3 separate regions of the Homo sapiens genome follow, and all the other regions are linked to region 2. The links come from fine-mapping of genetic effects on gene expression. A gene starts in region 2. Each other region holds a variant in brackets. All regions are shown on one strand. Distances are from middle to middle. Region 1 overlaps ADGRE2 (adhesion G protein-coupled receptor E2). Region 2 holds the start of TECR (trans-2,3-enoyl-CoA reductase). Region 3 overlaps TECR (trans-2,3-enoyl-CoA reductase).

What was found. PIP is the estimated chance that this variant, and not a neighbour inherited with it, causes the effect. A credible set is the group of variants that fine-mapping cannot tell apart.
Region 1: its variant is the best candidate, but not a certain one, in a credible set for the expression of TECR in nasal epithelium (TOPMed, PIP 0.67).
Region 3: its variant is the best candidate, but not a certain one, in a credible set for the expression of TECR in monocytes after interferon gamma (Fairfax 2014, PIP 0.89).

Annotation. Positions count from the first base shown.
Region 1 is chr19:14,762,441-14,767,440 of GRCh38, reverse strand. ADGRE2 (adhesion G protein-coupled receptor E2) reads left to right here. Exons shown (of 21, transcript NM_013447.4): 6 at 332-463; 7 at 1,060-1,206; 8 at 1,637-1,783; 9 at 1,871-1,917; 10 at 2,044-2,121; 11 at 2,831-3,008. Among named protein-coding and RNA genes, the nearest start is that of ADGRE2, 14 kb to the left of the region's middle. The variant A/G (reference allele first, on the strand shown) is at 2,336.
Region 2 is chr19:14,527,506-14,534,941 of GRCh38, reverse strand. It overlaps TECR (trans-2,3-enoyl-CoA reductase), which reads right to left and starts at 5,348. Exons shown (of 13, transcript NM_138501.6): 1 at 5,231-5,348. The coding sequence starts at 5,245. It overlaps MIR639 (microRNA 639), which reads right to left and starts at 5,399; the gene lies at 5,302-5,399. It also overlaps a transcript of DNAJB1 not described here. RefSeq lists enhancers at 4,597-4,656, 5,020-5,604 and a silencer at 5,257-5,546.
Region 3 is chr19:14,561,997-14,569,804 of GRCh38, reverse strand. TECR (trans-2,3-enoyl-CoA reductase) reads right to left here. Exons shown (of 13, transcript NM_138501.6): 2 at 7,230-7,280; 3 at 6,548-6,599; 4 at 6,103-6,147; 5 at 5,902-6,005; 6 at 5,708-5,823; 7 at 5,518-5,623; 8 at 4,947-5,019; 9 at 4,813-4,856; 10 at 4,682-4,739; 11 at 4,515-4,603; 12 at 4,142-4,187; 13 at 3,825-4,061. The coding sequence ends at 3,934. NDUFB7 (NADH:ubiquinone oxidoreductase subunit B7) reads left to right here. Exons shown (of 3, transcript NM_004146.6): 2 at 2,872-3,040; 3 at 3,540-3,727. The coding sequence ends at 3,672. Among named protein-coding and RNA genes, the nearest start is that of NDUFB7, 6.2 kb to the left of the region's middle. RefSeq lists enhancers at 3,732-4,538, 6,155-6,962 and a silencer at 5,116-5,265. The variant G/A (reference allele first, on the strand shown) is at 4,039.

The DNA.
Region 1 (5,000 bases), 230 kb before region 2:
GGTGAAACCCCGTCTAATACTAAAAATACAAAAAATTAGCCGGGCATGGTGGCGGGCGCCTGTAGTCCCAGCTATTCGGGAGGCTGAGGCAGGAGAATGGCGTGAACCCGGGAGGCGGAGGTTGCAGTGAGTTGAGATCAGGCAATTGCACTCCAGCCTGGGTGACAGAGCAAGACTCCGTCTCAAAAAAAAAAAAAAGAAAGAAAGAAAAGAAAAGGGAGCAGACAGTGGTGCCTTCCAGATGCTTCCGTGCCAGGAAACATGGCGGACCCTCAGCCCCGAAAGCTGCTCACAGCTACGGGCATTCTTCACCCTCTCCTTCCTCTTGCAGATGTGGACGAATGTCAGCAGAACCCAAGGCTCTGTAAAAGCTACGGCACCTGCGTCAACACCCTCGGCAGCTACACGTGCCAGTGCCTGCCTGGCTTCAAGCTCAAACCTGAGGACCCGAAGCTCTGCACAGGTAGAGGCCCCAGGAAGACGCTGTGAGGCTGGACGGGAGCTGGGGATGGAGCTGAGTCAGGTCCTCCAAAGCAGCCGAGGAGGAGGGAGAAGATCCGCAGGTTCCCACAAGGTCAAGGACCTGCTAAGCCCCTGCCTAAGGATTCACCTCCCAGGAAGGACTCGCCACACGGCAGGGAGGCGGCAGGGCCTTCAGGGCTTGGAGTGCCCTTGTGGGCCCCCAGACCTCACCCCTTCCTCATCTGTCACGTGCGAGTGGAAGAAGGTGTCACTTCCAGTTCTAAGAAGGGGAACCTCCACCATAGTGAGGGAGGGAGCAGGAGAGAGATTTTAGTCAGAAAGTCCAGCTCCCATGACTCAGTTTCCCTTTTGGTTTCACCTCCTATAAACTGGGGACCATGGTCCCTGCTGTGCCCATCTGGTAGGAAGACCATCATAAGATGCTTTGAAGGTGAAGTTGAAGGTCACCAAGTGGTGGCACGTGCAATAATGGTCTTCAGTCTGAGGCAATGAAAAGATAGGGGAGTGGGTGCAGTGAGTGGAGGGCAGGCCCAGGCTGGTCAGGGACAGGGTTTGACCCTCTGGCTTTGTCCTCAGATGTGAATGAATGCACCTCCGGACAAAACCCATGCCACAGCTCCACCCACTGCCTCAACAACGTGGGCAGCTATCAGTGCCGCTGCCGCCCGGGCTGGCAACCGATTCCGGGGTCCCCCAATGGCCCAAACAATACCGTCTGTGAAGGTCGAGAGCTCAGATCCCACGTTCCCAGAGACCCACAAACATCTGATCACATGTTCAACGGCGCCCACACAAACCAAGCAGAATGAGCGCTGGAGGCGCCCGACTGTGTCAGGCGTTCATTCTTCTGAGGCTAGATGAGAAAAGAGCAAGGGTCCTGCGGAAGGAGCTGGGGTACTGAGGGGGGAGGCTCAGGGGGACCCCAGGCAACAGCTGATGACTCACTGGGAGGAAGGCGTTTCACCATATTCATAACCTGCTCATCTGCACGGGGCCCACCTGCTGTGCCCAGGCCTCTCCACGCTTCCATAACCCAGCGTCCACCTCTCCAAGGGGGGCACTAATGCCGGGAGGAACGAGCTGGGGGCACAGACAGGAGACAGGACCCTCTCCAGGCTGGGACAGGACCTGACCCCCTTCTTCCTGTCCTCAGATGTGGACGAGTGCAGCTCCGGGCAGCATCAGTGTGACAGCTCCACCGTCTGCTTCAACACCGTGGGTTCATACAGCTGCCGCTGCCGCCCAGGCTGGAAGCCCAGACACGGAATCCCGAATAACCAAAAGGACACTGTCTGTGAAGGTATGACCTGGCCCTAGAAGCTCCCCACCCCCAGCACACACACTGACACGCTCCCGCCTAATGAGCCGCTTGTCTTGTTCCCTACAGATATGACTTTCTCCACCTGGACCCCGCCCCCTGGAGTCCACAGCCAGGTGAGTGGCCCCCACAGGGACGAGGCGGCGGGAACTCCATCCACACAGCACTGCATCCGTCTCCTTGTTCTAAACTTCCCACCCGCCGTCCAGGCTCTCTGACCCCCACATCTCCTCTCTCTGCAGACGCTTTCCCGATTCTTCGACAAAGTCCAGGACCTGGGCAGAGACTACAAGCCAGGCTTGGCCAATAACACCATCCAGGTAAGGACAGGACCCAGGGCAAGGGGGCGAGGCAGGAAGGTGGCTGCATCCCACAGAGGCCTGGGGCAGTTTGGGTCTGGGAGGGGACAGGACCCAATGCAGTGGGTGCTGGTCTGACTCCCAGCATCTTTCAGGGCTGGTGGAAGCTAATGGACACCCAAGTGCACTTAATATCTTTCCTCTTGCTTTCCCTGGACTTTGGGTTTAGGTCAGC[A/G]TTGATATTGCACAGAAGTGTTGGCCTCTGAGGGGCCATAACCAGAGTCAAGGATCACCTAGGGAATCCCATCCAATGTCATTTTTTTTTTAGACGGAGTCTCACTCTGTCGCCAGTCCAGAGTTTAGTGGCCCGATCTCAGCTCACTGCAGTCTCTGCCTCCCGGGTTCAAGCGATTCTCCTCCCTCAGCCCCCTGAGTAGCTAGGATTACAGGCACACGCCACCACGCCCGGCTAATTTTTGTATTTTTAGTAGAGACGGGGTTTCACCATGTTGGCCAGGATGGTCTCGATCTCCTGACCTTGTGACCCACCCTCATCGGCCTCCCAAAGTGCTGGAATTAGAGGCGTGAGCCACCGCGCCCAGCCGCCAATGCCATCTTCATCCCCCAGATAGACAGTCTCTAGGATCTGTTCCCTGGGGCTGAGCGGTTGGAGTCTTCATGCGGGCCCTCTGGCCCATGGCTCACTAGGTCTGTGTCCACATCCCTCCAGAGCATCTTACAGGCGCTGGATGAGCTGCTGGAGGCCCCTGGGGACCTGGAGACCCTGCCCCGCTTACAGCAGCACTGTGTGGCCAGTCACCTGCTGGATGGCCTAGAGGATGTCCTCAGAGGCCTGAGCAAGAACCTTTCCAATGGGCTGTTGAACTTCAGTTATCCTGCAGGCACAGGTAGGTCCCTGGGTCTGCCCCAGACTCCAGCTCTGCATGTTTTCTGTCTCCTTCCTTTCCCAGTCCCACCAGAGCCAAGTGACCACACCTGTATATCAGTGTTACTCTCATCGACAAACTAAAATAAGAGATTAAAAAGAAATACATACCAGTCTGGACAAGATGGCAATACTCAATCTCTACAAAAAAAAAAAAATCTTTTAAATTAGACAGATGTGATGGCACAACTGTGGCCCCAGCTAGTTGGGAGGCTGAGGTGAGAGGATCGCTTGAGCCCAGGAGGTTGAGTCTGCAGTGAACTATGATTGCATCACTGTACTCCAGCCTGGTTCACAGGGCAAGACCCCATCTCAAAAAAGAGAAGACGAAGAGGAGGAGGAGGAAGAAGAAGAAGAAGAGAAGGAGGAGGAGGTGAAGAGGAGGAGGAGGATAAAGAGGAAGAAAAAGGAGGAAGAGGGCAGGAGGGGGAGGACAGAAGGAGGAGGACAGGAGGAGAGGAGGGGAGGAGGAAGAGGAGGAAAGAGGATGGGAGGAGGAGGACAAGAGGAAGAGGACGGGAGGAGGAGGACAGGATGGGGAGGAGAGGAGGAGGAGAGAAGGAGGAGGAGAGGAGGAAGAGGAGGAATGGAGAAAGAGAGGAGGAGGAGAAAAGGAGGAGGAGAGGAGGAGGAGGAGAGGAGAAGGAGGAGGAATGGAGGAGGAGAGGAGGCAGAGGAAGATAGGAGGAGGAGAAGGAGAAGAGGAGGAGAAGAGAAGGAGGAGAGGAGGAGGAGACGAGAAAGAGCGGAGGAGAGGAGGAGAGGAGGAGGAGCACAGGAGGAGGAGGAGAGGAGTAGAGGAAGAAGGAAGAATAGAAAGAAGGAAAGGAAAGGAAAAAGAAATGCATAAATAACATGCATTTTCATTGTAATATGAATTATCAGCAGTAAATAATTATGATGAAGAATTTAAAATAACAAAATAGAAATCACTTCAAAAGAGAACAATTTATTTAATTTGGAATACTATAAATTAATATCATTTGATCTCTAAGTATGATTTCTTTCTTGTTTGTTTTTGTTTGTTTTGTTTTGTTTTGTTTTGTTTTTTTGAGACAGAGTCTCACTCTGTCGCCCAGGCTGGAGAGCAGTGACGTGATCTCGGCTCACTGCAAGCTCCGCCTCCTGGGTTGACAGCATTCTCCTGTCTCAGCCTCCCGAGTAGCTGGGACTACAGGTGCCCGCCACCACGCCCAGCTAATTTTTTGTATTTTTAGTAGAGACGGGGTTGCACCGTGTTAGCCAGGATGGTCTCTCGATCTCCTGACCTTGTGCATAATCCACTTGCCTCGGCTTCCCAAAGTGCTGGGATTACAGGCGTGAGCCACCACGCCCGGCCTGCATAATAATTTTTAAAGCATGAAAATGCATATAGCATTAATTTTATTAAGATAAAATTCACATAACATCAAGTTCACCACTTTAAAGTGTCTGTTTCACGTGGGGCGTGCCTGTAATGCCAGGCGCTCACACCTGTAATCCTAGCACTTTGGGAGGCTGAAATGGGTGGATCACTTGAGGTCAGGAGTTCAAATCCAGCCTGGCCAACATAGTGAAACCCCATCTCTACTGAAAATACAAAAATTAGACAGGCGTGGTGGTGCACACCTGTAATCCTAGCTACTCAAGAGGCTGAGGCAGGAGAATCACTTGAGCTTGGGAGGCAGAGGTTGCAGTGAGCCAAGTTTGCACCACTGCACTCCAGACTACGTGAGACAGAGTGCCACTCCATCTCAAACAAAAAAATTAAAATTAAAAATAAAAATAAGAAAAAATTTTAAAAGCGTGTGTTTCGGTAGAATCTAGTATATTCAGAAAGTTATACAACCGTCACCTCTATTTCTAAAATGCTTGCATCAGCCCAAAAGTGAACACTGCACATGGTAAGCAACCACTCCTCATTCCTCCCTTCCTCCAACCCATGGCAGCCGCTAATCTGCTTTCTGTTTCCATG
Region 2 (7,436 bases):
AGCCACCAGCTGTCCTAGGGCAGCATCAGCAGAGAAGCCATCAGTGTGGACAAAACTGGAGTCTGACAAACCCAGGTTCAGCTCCCTGGCTTCCAGGCTCTGTGACCTTGACCAGCTTAGTTTACCTCTCTGAGCTTCAGTTGCATTATCTGTAAAGTAGAACAGTAGTTCCCATCTGATCAGGTGCTAATAAGACTCACCCCTGGGCAAGGTGCGGTGGCTCACACCTATAATCCCAGCACTTTGGGATGCCAAGGCAGGAGGATCGCTTGAGCCCAGGAGTTCGAGACCAGCCTGGACTAACATGGTGAAACCCCATCTCTACTAAAACTACAGAAATTAGCCGGGCATGGTGGCACCCACCTGTAATAACAGCTACTTGGGAGGCTGAGGCAGGAAAATCGCTTGAACCGGGGAGGTGGAGGTTGCAGTGAGGTGAGATCACATCACTGCACTCCAGCCTGGGTGACAGAGCGAGACTCTGTCACAAAAAAAAAAAAAAAAAAAAAAAAAAAAAAGGCCAGGCATGGTGGCTCACTCCTGTAATCCCAGCACCCTGGGAGGCCGAGGCGGGCGGATCATAAGGTCAGGAGATCGAGACCATCCTGGCTAACACGGTGAAACCTCATCTCTACTAAAAATACAAAAAATTAGCCAGGCATGGTGGCAGGCACCTGTAGTTCCAGCTACTCGGGAGGCTGAGGCAGGAGAATGGCGTGAACCCGGGAGGCGGAGCTTACAGTGAGCCAAGATGGAGCCACTGCACTCCAGCCTGGGCGAGAGTGCGAGACTCTGTGTAAAAAAAAAAAAAGAAAGAAAACACCCTAAATGTGGGTTATGGGGGACCCCAAGAGGCTCGCTTCTGGGTATTCAGCTGCGGGAAATGGGCAGTGACCTGGACTGCTGGAGGCTGAAGACAGACTGATTTTCTCAGGAATTAACAGGCTCAATTACAAGATGTAGTAGCTGTTTTTCCAGTTGCTGCTGGGCTCATTGCTTTGAGTCTCATCTGCAGTGGCAAAAACAGCAATAAAATAAAAAAATACATTAAAAAAATACTGTATCCTAGGATAAGCAGTTCGCTTACCGACCTAGCTCTGACCCCAAGACAATGCTAAGGCCTGCTCTGGTATTCTAAGAAGACGGCTTCAGCCAAGGCCTGGAGGTGACCCGTTCTAGAGAGAGGCTTCACCTCAATTAGGCCACAGAGTGGAAAACTTTTCCTCTCAGATCAGATGAGATTTGGCAGTGATATGAGGCTACTATGGAAACAGCCACCGATCTCCACTACTGCTGGGATCCCAACTGCCATGATAACAGTCCTCAACCAGACATTAATTTGTTGCGTGACAGTCAGCACGTCCTGCACCCCTCTGGGCATTACCTCTATCAGTTGTAAACTGCACTTCATAATCTCCAAGGTCTCTCCAGGGGCCAACCTTTCAGTGGACAACAGACTGCTTGAGGGTGGGAAGATGGATTTAGTCCCAAGCAGAAATAGATTTTTTTCTTTTTTTTTTTGAGACAGAGTCTCGTTCTTGTCACCCAGGCTGGAGTGCAGTGGTGCGATCTCAGCTCACTGCAACCTCCACCTCCCAGGTTGAAGTGATTCTCCTGCCTCAGCCTCCCAAGTACCTGGGATTTCAGGCGTGCGCCACCACACCCAGCTAATTTTTTATTTTTTGTAGAGACGGAGTTTCATCATGTTGGCCAGGCTGGTCTCAAACTCCTGACCTCACATGATTTGCCCACCTTGGTGTCCCAAAGTGCTGGGATTACAGGCATGAGCCACTGTGCCCAGCTGAAATATATCCTTTATTTATTTTTTTTAAAACAGAGTCTCGCTCTGTCACCCAGGCTGGAGTACAGTGGCGTGATCTCAGCTCATGGCAACTCCGCCTCCCAGCTTCAAGTGATTCTCATTCCTCAGCCTCGAAGCCAGTAGCTGGGACTACAAGCACGTGCCACCATACCCAGCTAATTTTTTTGTTTTTAGTAGAGACGAGGTTTCACCATGTTGACCAGGCTGGTCTCGAACTCCTGACTTCAAGTGATTCACCCGTCTCAGCCTCCCAAAGTGCTGGGATTACAGGCATGAGCCACCTCGCCCGGCCAGAAATATATTCTTTGATGTAGACAAACCTTTTCTCAAATTGCTTGTTAAGTGTGAGTGAAAGCATCCTTTCTATTTTTACTGACCTACAATACACACATGCAGTTAAACTAATCTGCTTGCTATGCAATCCGCTGGGCCGGGAAACAACTGCTTCTCCCACCCAGAAGCCCTGTAGCTATCGCCTCTATGGGTACTTGGCAAAGGTTGGCAGAGAATAACAAACAACACAGCAAAATAACAATTTATTTTTTCCTTCAAGGTCACTTTGAACAGTGAGTTTGAAGCTTCCCTTTTTTTTTTTTTTTTTTTTTTTGAGACAGACTCTCGCTCTGTCATCCAGGCTGGAGTACAGTGGCATGATCTCAGCTCACTGCAACCTCTGCCTCCAAGTAGCTGAGATTACAGGCGTGTGCCACAACACTCGGCTCACTTTTGTATTTTTAGTAGAGACAAGGTTTCTCCATGTTAGCCAGGCTGGTCTTGAACTCCTCACCTCAAGCGATCCGGCCACCTCAGCCTACCAAAGTGCTGGGATTACAGGCGTGAGCCACCATGCCTGGCCAAAGCTCCCCCTTCTTTCTGGGAGAGAAAAGGATTAAGTACGGTGGAGCATATTCTCCAGTCCAAGTCTTGGGCCTCAGGCTGTGCCCAGCTTCCTGGAACAAAAGCACGCACCCCCAGGGTGCTCAGAGGCCTACTTTATCTGACTGTTAACTAGCAAAACTAAACCAACTACATTTGCAAAATGCCATATGGATGTTCCAAACTGCATGTTTCAAGCTGGACATGGTAGCTTTTTTTTTTTTTTTTTTTTTTCTTCAAACAGGGTCTCTGTTGCCCAGGCTGGAGTGCAGTGGCCTGATTTTTGGGCTCACTGCAGCCTCAACCTCCTGGGCTCAAGCCATCCTCCTGCTTCAGCCTCCCGAGTAGCTGAGACTACAGTAGTGGGACTACAGGTTTAGATATAGAGTTTGAGAGGGGAATCCACATCAGAACTTCATTCTAGAATGAAAACTTAAATGACAGAGATTATTGAATACAAACCTCCTCATTCTTGATACCATGTCAAAAATTACAGGATTTGTGGGTTAAAGGCTTCTAAGGGGCTAGGCACCGTGGCTCATGCCTGTAATCCCAGCACTCTGGGAGGCCAAGGTGGGTGGATCACCTGAGGTCGGGAGTTCGAGACCAGCCTGACCAACATGGAGAAACCCTGTCTCTACTAAAAATACAAAATTAGCCGGGCATGGTGGCTCATGACTGTAATTCCGGCTACTCAGGAGGCTGGGGCAGGAGAATCACTTGAACCCGGGAGGTGGAGGTTGCGGTGAGCCAAGATCACGCCATTGCACTCCAGCGTACTCAACAAGAGCGAAACTCCGTCTCAAAAAAAGGCTTCAAAGGATTGTGGGTAAATTTCCAAAAATAGTAGCAATAAAGGGGGCAGGAGGCAGAGGTAGTAATATTCAACTTGTCAATAAAAACAAACAGCCGGGCGCACTAGCTCACACCTGTAATCCCAGTACTTTGGGAGGCCGAGGAGGGCAAATCACTTGAGGTCAAGAGTTTGAGGCCAGCCTGGTCAACATGGTGAAACCCCCATCTCTACTAAAAATACAAAAAATTAGCCGGGCATGGTGGCGGTCACCTGTAATCCCAGCTATTCAGGAGGCTGAGGCAGGAGAATCGCTTAAACCCAGGAGGCGGAGTTTGCAGTAGGCCGAGATCGCGCCATTGCACTCCAGCCCGGGCAATAAGACCGAAACTCTGTCTCCAAAAGAAAAAAAAAATCCTTCTACGTATCCAAGGTACCTAGAGTAGTCAATTCATTAAGACGGAATGGTGGCTGAGTAGAATGGTGGCTGCCAGAGGTGGAGGTGGAGAGGAATGGGGAGTTAGTATTTAACGTCTACAGCTTCTGTTTTCCAAGATGCAAAGAGTTCTGGAGATGGGTGGTGGTGATGGTTGCACAACAATGTGAATGTTCTTAATGCCACTGAACTGCACACTTAAAAATAGTCAAGATGGTAAATTTTATGTGTATTTTGCCAGAATTTTTTAAATTGGAGGGGAAGTGAGAAACAAGAAATCGCTCGACCTGCTATTTTTCATTTGAGGACCAGCATGGCATAGTGGCTAGGAACTAAGACCTTGGCGTCCTGAGTTCCCCTATCTGTTTTGCATTTACTAACTAGGGGCCTTTGAACAAGTCACTTTATATCTCTGAGACTTTATTCATCCTTACAAACAGGAATAATAATAGTTCTTATACAAGGTAACAGAATCTCACCAGCACAAGAGTAAGCACTTGCTAAATTGTTATTTTGAATTTTAATAACAAATTTTATTATTTGATGATAGTTACTTAAAAGTCAGCAATAATTCAGGGATAATTGGTTGAATTATTAATATTATATTATCACCTAGGGCGATAAGCACATCAGAAGACTTCGTTTTAAGGGAAAAAGAGACCCAAGTTAGGAGTCAGAAGACTTGGGCTTCAAGAGTGGCTGTGGGTGGGTATAAGATTTCTCCTTGGTGACACCCAAGGGTTGACGTAGATGACCTCTTTGATAACCAGAAAGCAAGATCAGCTTCGCTGCTCTGCGAAAGCCAGCCGTGGAGCTGCACCTCCCTCACCGCCTAAGTCTCCCGGGAACGTCCCGGGCGAGGGAAGGGGTCCAAAGGTCGTACACAAGAATACTGATAGCAAAGCCCCTTCCTACGCTGGTGACGGCGGCGTGGCGCAAGATTTGTGCAAGACTCCCTCGGATTGGGAGCAAGGGTCCCGCACCTTCGTGGCTCCCATGACAAAGTCTGCAACTCAGCCCGCTGGGGGAGCTGCAAGGAACCTGCAAGCGTCCCAGCCCCTGCAGAGACCCCCAAGAAAAAGTACCCCCAAAACAGCCTGGGTTGCAGATTTATAAATACTTCCTGCGCACATGCGCATTGGAATTTACGAGTGGCCCGGGGCGCAACGCTTGCCCACTGCGCCTGCGCCGTCTGGCTCTTCCTTCGGGGCACAGGACCAGAAAGTGGGGTCCCGTGGTCCCGCAAAGAAGGAAAAAGAATGGGTCAGCAGTGGCCACACGGCCCCTGTTTCTCGCTTCTTACCTCGTAATGCTTCATGGCTCCCTCCCACGGCGGCTACTGCTCCGCGGCTGCTGCTGCCTAACTGCGCGGCACAGCACAGGCTCCCTACAGCGCTCGCAACCGCAGCGATAGACTAAACGCGGCTCTGCGTCCGCCCCGCCCCTCCAGGCCGCGCGCGCCCCGTCGGCCAATCAGGGCACGAGGCGCCCACGTTCGCCCCTGCTCCTTGGGGCCGGTCCGAACCAAGACTAGGACTAGCACCAGGGGATTGACCAATCAACTTGCGAGACCAATCGAAGGGGGCGGAACGCCTGTAGGAGGGGCTAAAGAGAAGGGGCTTGACCATCCACCAATCCAAAGGAGGTCTCTGCCCCGCGCGTCCCTTTGCCACGCCCCCTGATGGCGTCGCTGTGGAAACCAAGGTAAGCGACGGTTAGGCCAGACGCGGGGGCGGGGTAAGAAGTTGAGTGACAGGCAAGGCAGCATCCACATGACAGGCGGCGCCGAAGGGGTAAATTCTGAGGTGGGCGGCCCCCGGGGTACACCGGGAACAGCAGGAGAGGGCTAGGGGCTGGGGTCGCGGGCTGCGGAGTCTGGTTGGCGAGGAGGTCACTATGGGAGGAGACTCTTGAGTGGGAGGGAAGGAAAGGCGAAACGGAGTCGCGAAAAGCTCCCCATTTGGGAACCCCCAACCTGCAAGAACCTTGAGCCCCAGCCCCATTCTGGGGTGGCTTCACTGCCGTTTTTAATGAAAGCCCCGCCCCACTTTGTTTTTCTGTTTTGTTTTGTTTTTGAAACAATCTCGTTCTGTCCCCCAGCTGGAGTGCAGTGGCGCAATGACGGCTCACGCAACCTCCGCCTCCCGGGTTCAAGCGATTCTCATGCCTCAGCCTCCCAAGTAGATGAGATTACAGGCACCCGCCACCACGCCCGACTAATTTTTGTATTTTTTTTAGTAGAGACGGGGTTTCCCCATGGTTGGCCAGGCTGGTCTTGAACTCCTGACCTCAGGTGATCCTCCCGCCTCAGCCTCCCAAAGTGCTAGGATTACAGGCCTGAGCCACCCCGCCCGGCCCCCCTCCACACTTTGCTCCGCCCTATGGACAGGGGAACTACATTGGTCTCTGCCTGACGTCCAGAATCGTGTCTAGTGGCTCCAATGGGGCCACTGAGCCCTTGAAATGGGGCTGGTCCAGGCCGGGAACGATGGCTCACACCTGTAATCCTAGCACCTTGGGAGGCCGAGGGGGGCAGATCACGAGGTGAGGAGTTCGAGACCAGCCTGGCAGATATGGTGAAACCTCATCGCTACTAAAAATACAAAAATTAGCCGGGCGTGGTGGTACACACCTGTAGTCCCAGCTAATCAGGAGGCTGAGGCAGAAGAATTGCTTGAACCCGGGAGGCGGAGGTTGCAGTGAGCCAAGATCTCGCCACTACACTCCAGCCTGAGCAACAGACCGTCTCAAAAAAAAAAAAAGAAAAAAGAAAAAGAAATGGGACTGGTCCAAATTGAGATGTGCTGTAAATGAAAAACACATAAATTTCTGGCCAGGCACGGTGGCTCACACCTGTAATCCCAGCACTTCGGGAGGCCAAGACAGGCAGATCACATGAGGTCAGGAATTCAAGACCAGCCTGGACAACGTGGTGAAACCCTGTCTCTACTAAAAATACAAAAATTAGCCAGGTGTAATGGTGGGCACCTGTAATCCCAGCTACTAGGGAGGCTGAGAATCGCTTGAACCCGGGAGGTGGAGGTTGCAGTGAGCCAAGATCGCACCACTGCACTCCAGCCTGGGCGACAGAGTGAGATTCTGTCTCAAAAAAAAAAGAAAAAAAAAGAAAAGACTTTTGACAGACAAAGGAACAGGCAGTACCTGGCACACTTCTTCACCTCCTCTCCTTACTCTTGTTTCCAGATCCTGCCCCTGAGCTTTCATGAGCTGTTGAACCATCTGGAATTCACAGGCCTGTCATGAGAGACACGATGAGAAGTCCTTAAAGGTAGATCACTGATTCACAGGGGAGCAGGCGGAGGCAAGGGTGAGTCAGTGCTTGGAACTCAGTCATCCAGATTTGGCTCTGGAAACTTCTGAAGCTGTAGCCTTTGGGGATCCCTGACTGCGAGTACAGGAAGCCAACGCTATGTGGTCTTCTGGAAACTCATTATCTTTTTCACTGGTGCTATCTGGGAAAAACAGATGAAAACCTGAAGGTGTTCTGT
Region 3 (7,808 bases), 35 kb before region 2:
TTTGGTTGGTCAAAAGGTCACACTGTCTACTGAGTGGGCGACAAGCTTGAGACAGAGACCTCTAAGCAGCCTGGATTTGAGAGAAAGTTGGGAGATGGTATAATCACTCCAGTGTCCACACTCCGGGTAGTCCTTCCGCCCCAGCTGAACCTGCAGTTCATTGGTCCGTCCACCTTCCTCCCACTGCCTCACATACCTTGCTTTCCCCAAGATCAGCTTTGCAAACGCTAGCAACCTGCTGCCCTTCTCTCTTGCTTACTCTGGATAAACTCACCTCTTTCCCTTCCTTGGTGCCTATCCCCGTGCAACTGAACATAATGGGGGGCGGGGAGATAAGAAAAAAACAGCTCTAAGCCAGGCAAAATGGCTCATGCCTGTAATCCCAACGGTTTGGGAGGCAAAGGCAGGAGGATTGCTCAAGGCCAGAAGTTCAAGAACAGCCTGGGCAACATAGCAAGGCCCTGTCTCTACAATTTTTTATTTTTATTTTTTAATTAGCTGGGTGTGGTGGCGCATTCCTGCAGTCCCTGCTGACCGGTCTCCCGATTGGTACTCCAGTGGACTCTTTATGGTGCCTGGCCTTTCTCTTACCTCCCGGATCCTTCACTCTCTCCCTCCCTCCTAGATCACTGTCCCCTGCCCTCTCTTTCCTCCTTTCCACCCCCTTTCAGCCAGTCACTTTGCTCACTGCAACATCTGCCTTCCCGGTTCAAGCGATTCTCCCGCCTCAGCCTCCCGAGTAGCTGGGATTACAGGTGCGTGCCACCACACCTGACTCATTTTTGTATTTTTAGTAGAGACAGGGTTTTACCATGTTGGCCAGGCTGATCTCGAACTTCTGACCTCAAGTGATCCACCTGCCTCGGCCTCCCAAAGTGCTGGGTTTACAGGCGTGAGCCACCGCGCCTGGCCCATATTTATTTATTTGTTTGTAGAGATGGGCTCTCGCTCTGTTGCTTAGGCTGGAGTGCAGTGGGGTGGTTATCACCCACTGCAGCCTCAAACTCCTGGGTTCAAGCGATCCTCCCGAGTAGCTCTGGATACTCCGTGTGCACTACCGTGCAAAGATAATTTTATTTTTTTCTGGACATGGGATCTTTCTGTGCTCCCCAGGCTGGTCTCCCTAATACTTAAGCACTGCCAGACACGCTGTGGTGCTCTGTCTTCTGTCTGTTCTGTGTCTCCCTCTGAGGGCAGGGACACTTGTGTGTTGTGTTGCCTGCTGTATCCCCACCACTAAGCACACAGTAGGCAGTCTAAAGTCCTTGCTGCTAGCTGATTATAAGTTCAAGACAAAAGAGGGAGGAGTCTAGGATTGCCACCTGGAGCTCCAAGTGCAGATAGGGAACAGCCAGGGGCTGCAGGTGATACCCAGGCCTGGGGCTCAAGCGAGGTGTGGGGTGGAGGGACCACATCGGGCTCATCTACATACGGGGCGGCAGCAGAGAAAAAGGCTCTCAGGCCGGGCACAGTGGCTCACACCTGTAATCCCAGCACTTTGGGAGGCCAAGGTGGGTGGATCACCTGAGGTCAGGAGTTCAAGACCAGCCTGACTAACATGGCGAAACCCCATCTCTACTAAAAATACAAAAATTAGTCGGGCATGGTGGCAGGCGCCTGTAGTTCCAGCTACTCAGGAAGCTGAGGCAGGAGAATTGCTTGAACCTGGGAGACAGGGGTTGCAGTGAGCTGAGATCTTGCCACTGCCCTCCAGCCTGGGTGACAGAGTGAGACTCCATCTCAAAAGAAAAGAAAAAGGCTCCCAGAACAAAGCGTAAGGTAAGGCAGCCATAGAGATGGGAGGAAACCTGGGGAGGAGGGATGTGGGAGGAGCCACAGGAAAGAAGGAAGCGGGAGGCTGGGGTCCTGGGCTGTTGGGTGGCCCTGTGAGAGCCCGTGTCTGGGCAGTGAGGGGGTAGGGCAGAAGCCAGGGAATGGGACAAGGGGCAGGAGAGGAGGACCTGGGCCTCAGTGGGATGAGAGAATCGCAGCTGGGAAGCAAAGGGGAGAGAAGCCAGCAGGGGACGACTGCCATTGAGATGTGAATATATCTCGTCTCACTTGCGCAGATGGGAAGGAGCTGGGACCGAGAAAGATGTGGTGGACGTCAGGAGGGCTAGGGAGGCTGGGTCTGAGGGAGGCGGTGGGGAACGAGTGCAGGATCGCCAGGCACAGGCTCCGGGGTGAGTGTCCAGGATTCCTCATGCTCCCATCGGCCCCCTCCTGAAGGTTGATTTGTCCGGAGTCAGGTTTGCTAGGTGAGTGGGGCACCGGGACCCAGATACTAGTCCAGCTGTCTTCTGAGCCCACGCCTAAGTACCTTACAGGTACTGTTAGCTCAGTGGATGCTCGGGTAACTTCCATGACCGGATGGTCAGTTCTGAGGCTGAGAGAGAGGCCACGCCGCCGGCCAGTGCAGAGCTGGGCCTTGGGTGGGTTGCAGACAAGAAAGGCTGGGAGTGCTGCCTGGAGCCCCAGGTGCAGGTGGAGGGGCTGAGGGTTACTCTGGGAGAAGGTGGATTCTGAACTCGGACTCTGGAGAGCGGGGCTGTAGAGAGCTGGGGACGGGCATCCCTGTGGGAGGGGAGGCAAGGATCCGGCACGGGATGTTGAGGTGCCTCAGGGTGATGGGGAGCCACCTTCTCCTGTCTGGCCCTTGGTGTCTGGAGTTGCCTTTGTGCAAATTAGAAAAGGAGGCCCCTTCAGGACAGTGCATCCGTCAAAGGCATCTGCCATCCACTGCCATCTGGATGTGAATGGGGGACACCCCAAGCCGTGCCTTCCTGAAGCCGTGTGCCTCGGTCCCCTGGGGATCCCCGGAATTGGGGTGGGGAGCCTCCAGCCTGGTTGAGCCCCGCCCACTCCCTGCAGAGATGGTGGCCACACAGCAGGAGATGATGGACGCGCAGCTGAGGCTCCAGCTGCGGGACTACTGCGCCCACCACCTCATCCGGCTGCTCAAGTGCAAGCGTGACAGCTTCCCCAACTTCCTGGCCTGCAAGCAGGAGCGGCACGACTGGGACTACTGCGAGCACCGCGAGTGAGCACCCCCACACCAGCCCCCAACACCCCGGCCCGCAACACCCCATACCCCCAGCCTTCCACACCCCTGGCCCACCCAAGCCCCCCACATGCCCAGCCCGCCCAAGCCCCCCTCCCACCCCCGCCAACACCCACAGCCTGCACCCCACCCAGGCCTGGCCCCTGGCAGGATGTGGCTCCAGAGGCCAGGGACCTGAACTGCCACTGAGGTTTCTAGCCGGGCCCCACCTTAGTCCCAGAGAGGGCTCTCTAGGGGCCTGTTTGATGGGGACAGGGCAGGTGGCTGAAGCCACCTAGGGGAGTGGCCAAGCCCAGGTTCCAGTGGGAAGCCCTGCCACCTGCGTGGGCAGACCCCAGACCCAAGCCACAGGCACTCGGACATGTCTTCTTCAGAGGCCTCCCCCACAGTGCTCTGGGACGGCCCCTCCGCTTCCCAGGGCTTGGGGGGCGTGTCCTGGCCAGGGACCCTGACAGCCCCTCTCGTGCTTTTCCCCCAGCTATGTGATGCGCATGAAGGAGTTTGAGCGGGAGCGGAGGCTGCTCCAGCGGAAGAAGCGGCGGGAGAAGAAGGCGGCAGAGTTGGCCAAAGGCCAGGGACCCGGGGAAGTGGACCCCAAGGTGGCCCTGTAGGGGGTGCACCCCCCACCCTATGGACCAGTCAAATAAAAGCCTTCAGGCCCCTCAACCAGAGTCCCCTCTTACTGCTCCGACGCGAGAGTGGGGAGAGAGTGAAGGGCAGTGTGGTGGTCCCCAACCCCGGAAAGAAACACACAGAGCCCGAGTCCGACTGGGGCAGGCGGGCTTTATTCCGGGTGCTGGAGAGCTGTGGGCCCCACTCCTCCCCCAGAATGCCACCGGGTTGAGGGGCTGAGCCTCAGCAGGGGTGAGCGCTCAGAGCAGGAAGGGGATGATGGGCATGCGCAGGGGCGGGTAGTCCCGGAACTCCTTCAGGTAGCTGCGGTGCTTGCCCTTGGCCCAGATGGTCATCTGGGTGAA[G/A]CCCACCAGGGAGAACAGGGCCACTGCAGGAAAGAACGGGCGTCAGGGAGGGGCTGCCGGCCCGGAGGGGCAGGGCCCCGCCGAGGGAGGGCGGCAGGCTCACCTGGGAGACACTGCGTCATGATGGCGAAACCGATCCAGGACCCCACCTGTGGGCAGGGGCGGAGAGTGAGCGTGGGCAGCCTCGCAACCCGTGTATGTGGCTGTCCTGGACTCAGCCAGCCACCTCCCGCCGCCCCTGCTTTCTGAGTCAGGGATGGGAACCCAATTCCAGCGGAGGCGGGGCTGTATACGGCGGAAGCCCAGCGGCACACGCCTCCCCGCCACCACAGCAGAGAGGCCGCGGTCTCCACCTCCCAATGCTCGCAGTGCAGGCGGCAAAAGCAGCTGCCCAGCCAGGCGCCCCATCCTAGGGGCTGGTCCCTCCACATGGGACCCCAAGTCCCAGGGCAGAGAGGGGTAAGGCAGCCCCTCACCTCGTAGGTGTAGTTGGGGCAGGACACCAGCAGGAAGAGCCACGTGAAGGGGTTCTTGGTGGGGTATGGGATCTTCCGCGTCTTGGACCCTGGCAGGCAGGACAGAAGGAGAAAGTCAGACCCCCTCACCCAGCCCAGCTGTCCCCCTGCCCCCAGCAGGCACTCACCAGCGGGCCGCAGGTCCCGCAGGGCCATGTGGATGGAGAAGTTGCCGAGCTGGCAGATCTGTCAGAGAAGCAGGATCAGCCTAGGGCCGCCCAGACTCCCCCGACCCCGTCCCCACACCCAGCCTCCTTACCACAAAGATGGCGAGCGCCAGTTTCACCTGCTGAGCTCCGTAGGCTGAAGAGGAAGCAGGGAGGGGAGCCCATGAGGGGAGGACCCGCTGGGTGGGGACCGTGGGGGAGGGAAGGATGGTCTGAGGCCACTTACTAGGGGGAGTGTAGAGAGGGTGATTGATGTAATAGGCCATCCACGCGGCGAAGCCCCAGTAGTAGGTGCAGTTCTGAAAGGGAGCAGGGCAGGGATGGGACTTGGGCCAGCACCGGACAAGGCAGATGCTGCCCATGTCTCATCCCGAGGGGCCTGGGAGCATGGTGGGAAAGGACAGGAGGGGCCTTGGGGCGGGGCTGGGGAGGATAGGCGGGGCCAAGGGGTGAGGCTAGGGCAGGGCTCTGTGAGGGCGTGGTGGACAGGAGGGGCCTAGGGGTGAAACTGGGGCGGGGCTCTGCAGGGGCGGGGCTGGGGGGATAGGCGGTGCCTAGGGGTGGGACTAGGGTGGATAGGCAGGCCTAGGGGCCCGACGGGGGCGGGGCTGGGGAGGACGGGCGGGGTCTAGAGGCTCTGCGAGGGCGGGGCTGGGGAGGTTAGGCGGGGCCTAGGGGTAGGGCTCTGCTGGGGCGTAGTGGCAGACAGGAAGGGCCTTGGGGTGGGGCTCGGTGGGGGCGGGGCGGGGTGGGGCAGAAAGGCGGGGCTTAGGGGTGAGGCGGGGACGGGCTCTCACCTTGAAGATGTTGCGCAAAGGCATAGTGCCATGGGAGAAGCGGTGCACGAAGAGCGTCTCCAGCAGGCGCTTGATGTAGTGGAATGAGTGACAGATGCAGGCGAGGCTGGTCGGGGGGAGCAGGCTCAGCTGGGGCTGGTCCGGCAGGTCTTCTGCCTTCCCCTACCCTCCTCCCACCTGCCCCACTTACTGCACCACTGTATGCCGACTGGACGTAAAGTCATATTTGTGGCCATAGATGAAGGGCACTCGGAAGTAGAAGAGCAGGTAGATGAAAAGGGGCCCCGCGTACTCTGTTAGGAAGACCTGAGAGTAGAGGGGGGCAAGATGAGTCACCCAACGTGGCTGACGGGAAAAGAGGCCGTGGGTAGGGTCAGGACTCACCGTCACCCAGCTGATCTGGGCCCCCAGGTCCCGGAAGTACAGTGTGGCCGTGGTGCCCACGGGCAGCTTCTGCAGAACATCCTCATCCTTCAGGGACTTGCCCTCTGCAGAGAGGCGGGCCAGGGCTCAGGGGCTACCCGGGCCTTCTCCCACTGCCACCCAGGAGCCCAGGGGGCGGGCCGAGTGGACAGCTGTACTCACTGGGGTCCAGGCGGAGGGACTGGCGGGCGGGGTACCACTGCGGATCTGCGGGGAGAACAGGGCAGTTACAGCCCACAGCCTGGCAGGGCTCAGCCGGTCCGCTGCCCAGCCACTGTGCCAGCTTCTCAGGGTTCCCAGGGTGCAAGGACCCCAGGACTCCACAGCTCCTCCCACCTGGGGGCAAACCCTCAGGCTTGTGCGGTTTCAGGACACAAGCCAGAAGAGCGCGGGCAGAAGCAGGATCTTGTCCTTCCCAGAGCCTAGCAAGGGCGTTCCTGCGGAGTGCCACGTGGAGGCGCCTGCCCCAGTCACGCCCCAGAAGCCTGGGCCACACTGGGGCATCTCTGCAGGCCCCTGGGAGAGGGGTGCAGGATGGGATCCCTCCCACCCTAAGGTCCCTGGTCAAAGGGGTTGCAGGGGCAGTGTGGCCGGGACTAGAACTCACGGGTCTTAGTGAAGAGGTTCTTGATCTCCGCAATGGTGGCGTGGGGCTCCACCTGGGGGAAGCACAGGCGCAGGGACGTCAGCTCTGCGGGGAGCCCAGACTCAGGATGGGGAGGTACTAAAGGGGATGGCAGGCTGGGGGTTGGGCTGTAGCTATGGGAAGGGGGAAGGGCTGGGGTCCAGGCCTCTGCCTGCAGTCAGGGAAGGACCACCGAGGGCCCTGCCAGTGCAGTGACAGCAGGGGTCTGGGGCTCCACTTTTACCCTCAGCCAGCAGGCCCCCAGCCCGGCTAGTGGCGGATTAAGCATGGGAAGGCAAGCCTGCTTCTCTGCCCCTCCTCTCCACTTCTCACCCATGACTCTCCCAGGAGCAAAGGCCCTCTGTCCTCCCCAGGGACAGCGCAAGCCCCTTCCCCCAGGCCCGGCCTCAGCAGGGGCAAGGCTCACTCCTCCACCGCCCTCCCAGGACCAAAATCCCCGCAGGGTCCACTGAGACTCCTGTGCCTCCATTTCCCCGCCACACCCAGGGGACATGGCTATCCACCCTACCCCAAGTGAGGGCATACCCCTCCATAGGGCAGGGGGTGGGGCACAAAGGGCCCCACTGGACAGCTCCTGGGCTATAAGGATTGGGGTCCCGGGCCCAGTGCCCTTGGCCCAGTGCAGCCCACGCCCCAGTCCTACCTTGTCCAAGAAACACAGCTTCTCCCTTGTCTTTGCGTCCAGAATCTCCACCTCGAAGAAGAGAACAGCCTTTTTAGGTTTCTTGGCCACCTTTGGGGGTGTGGGCCTGGGGAGCCCATTGAGGCCAGGGAGGAGGCCTGGGGTGGCCTCCCGGGCCAACAAGCTCAAGTTCAAGTCCATGCCGCCTGCCACCAGCCCTGCCACTCGGCTCTGCCCACGGTGGCCAGCAGCCCCAGCTGCCGGCCGTCAGCCCCCACCACCGACCTCCCCACGGGAAGCAGCCCTGGGCCGGGCAAGCGCGATCAAATTCTGCCGCGGTGCTGGAAAGGAGCCCGTGCCGGCCCTGGCACTGCCGACTTCTGTGCCAGATGTAACCCGAGTGGCAACCACAGCCACAGCCCAGCTAAATATAAAACCACCCCAGACTGCGCCCCCCAGGAGCCATGCCACAGACCTTCTCTGAGGGGGGCTTGGGAGTCTCCCCGGGGAGCCAGGCTGCCCTGAAAGCAGCTTTTGAGTGGTCACCTCAAAACCCTCAACGGCACCAGCACAGGGAAAGCCCCAGGGGCAGGCATGACA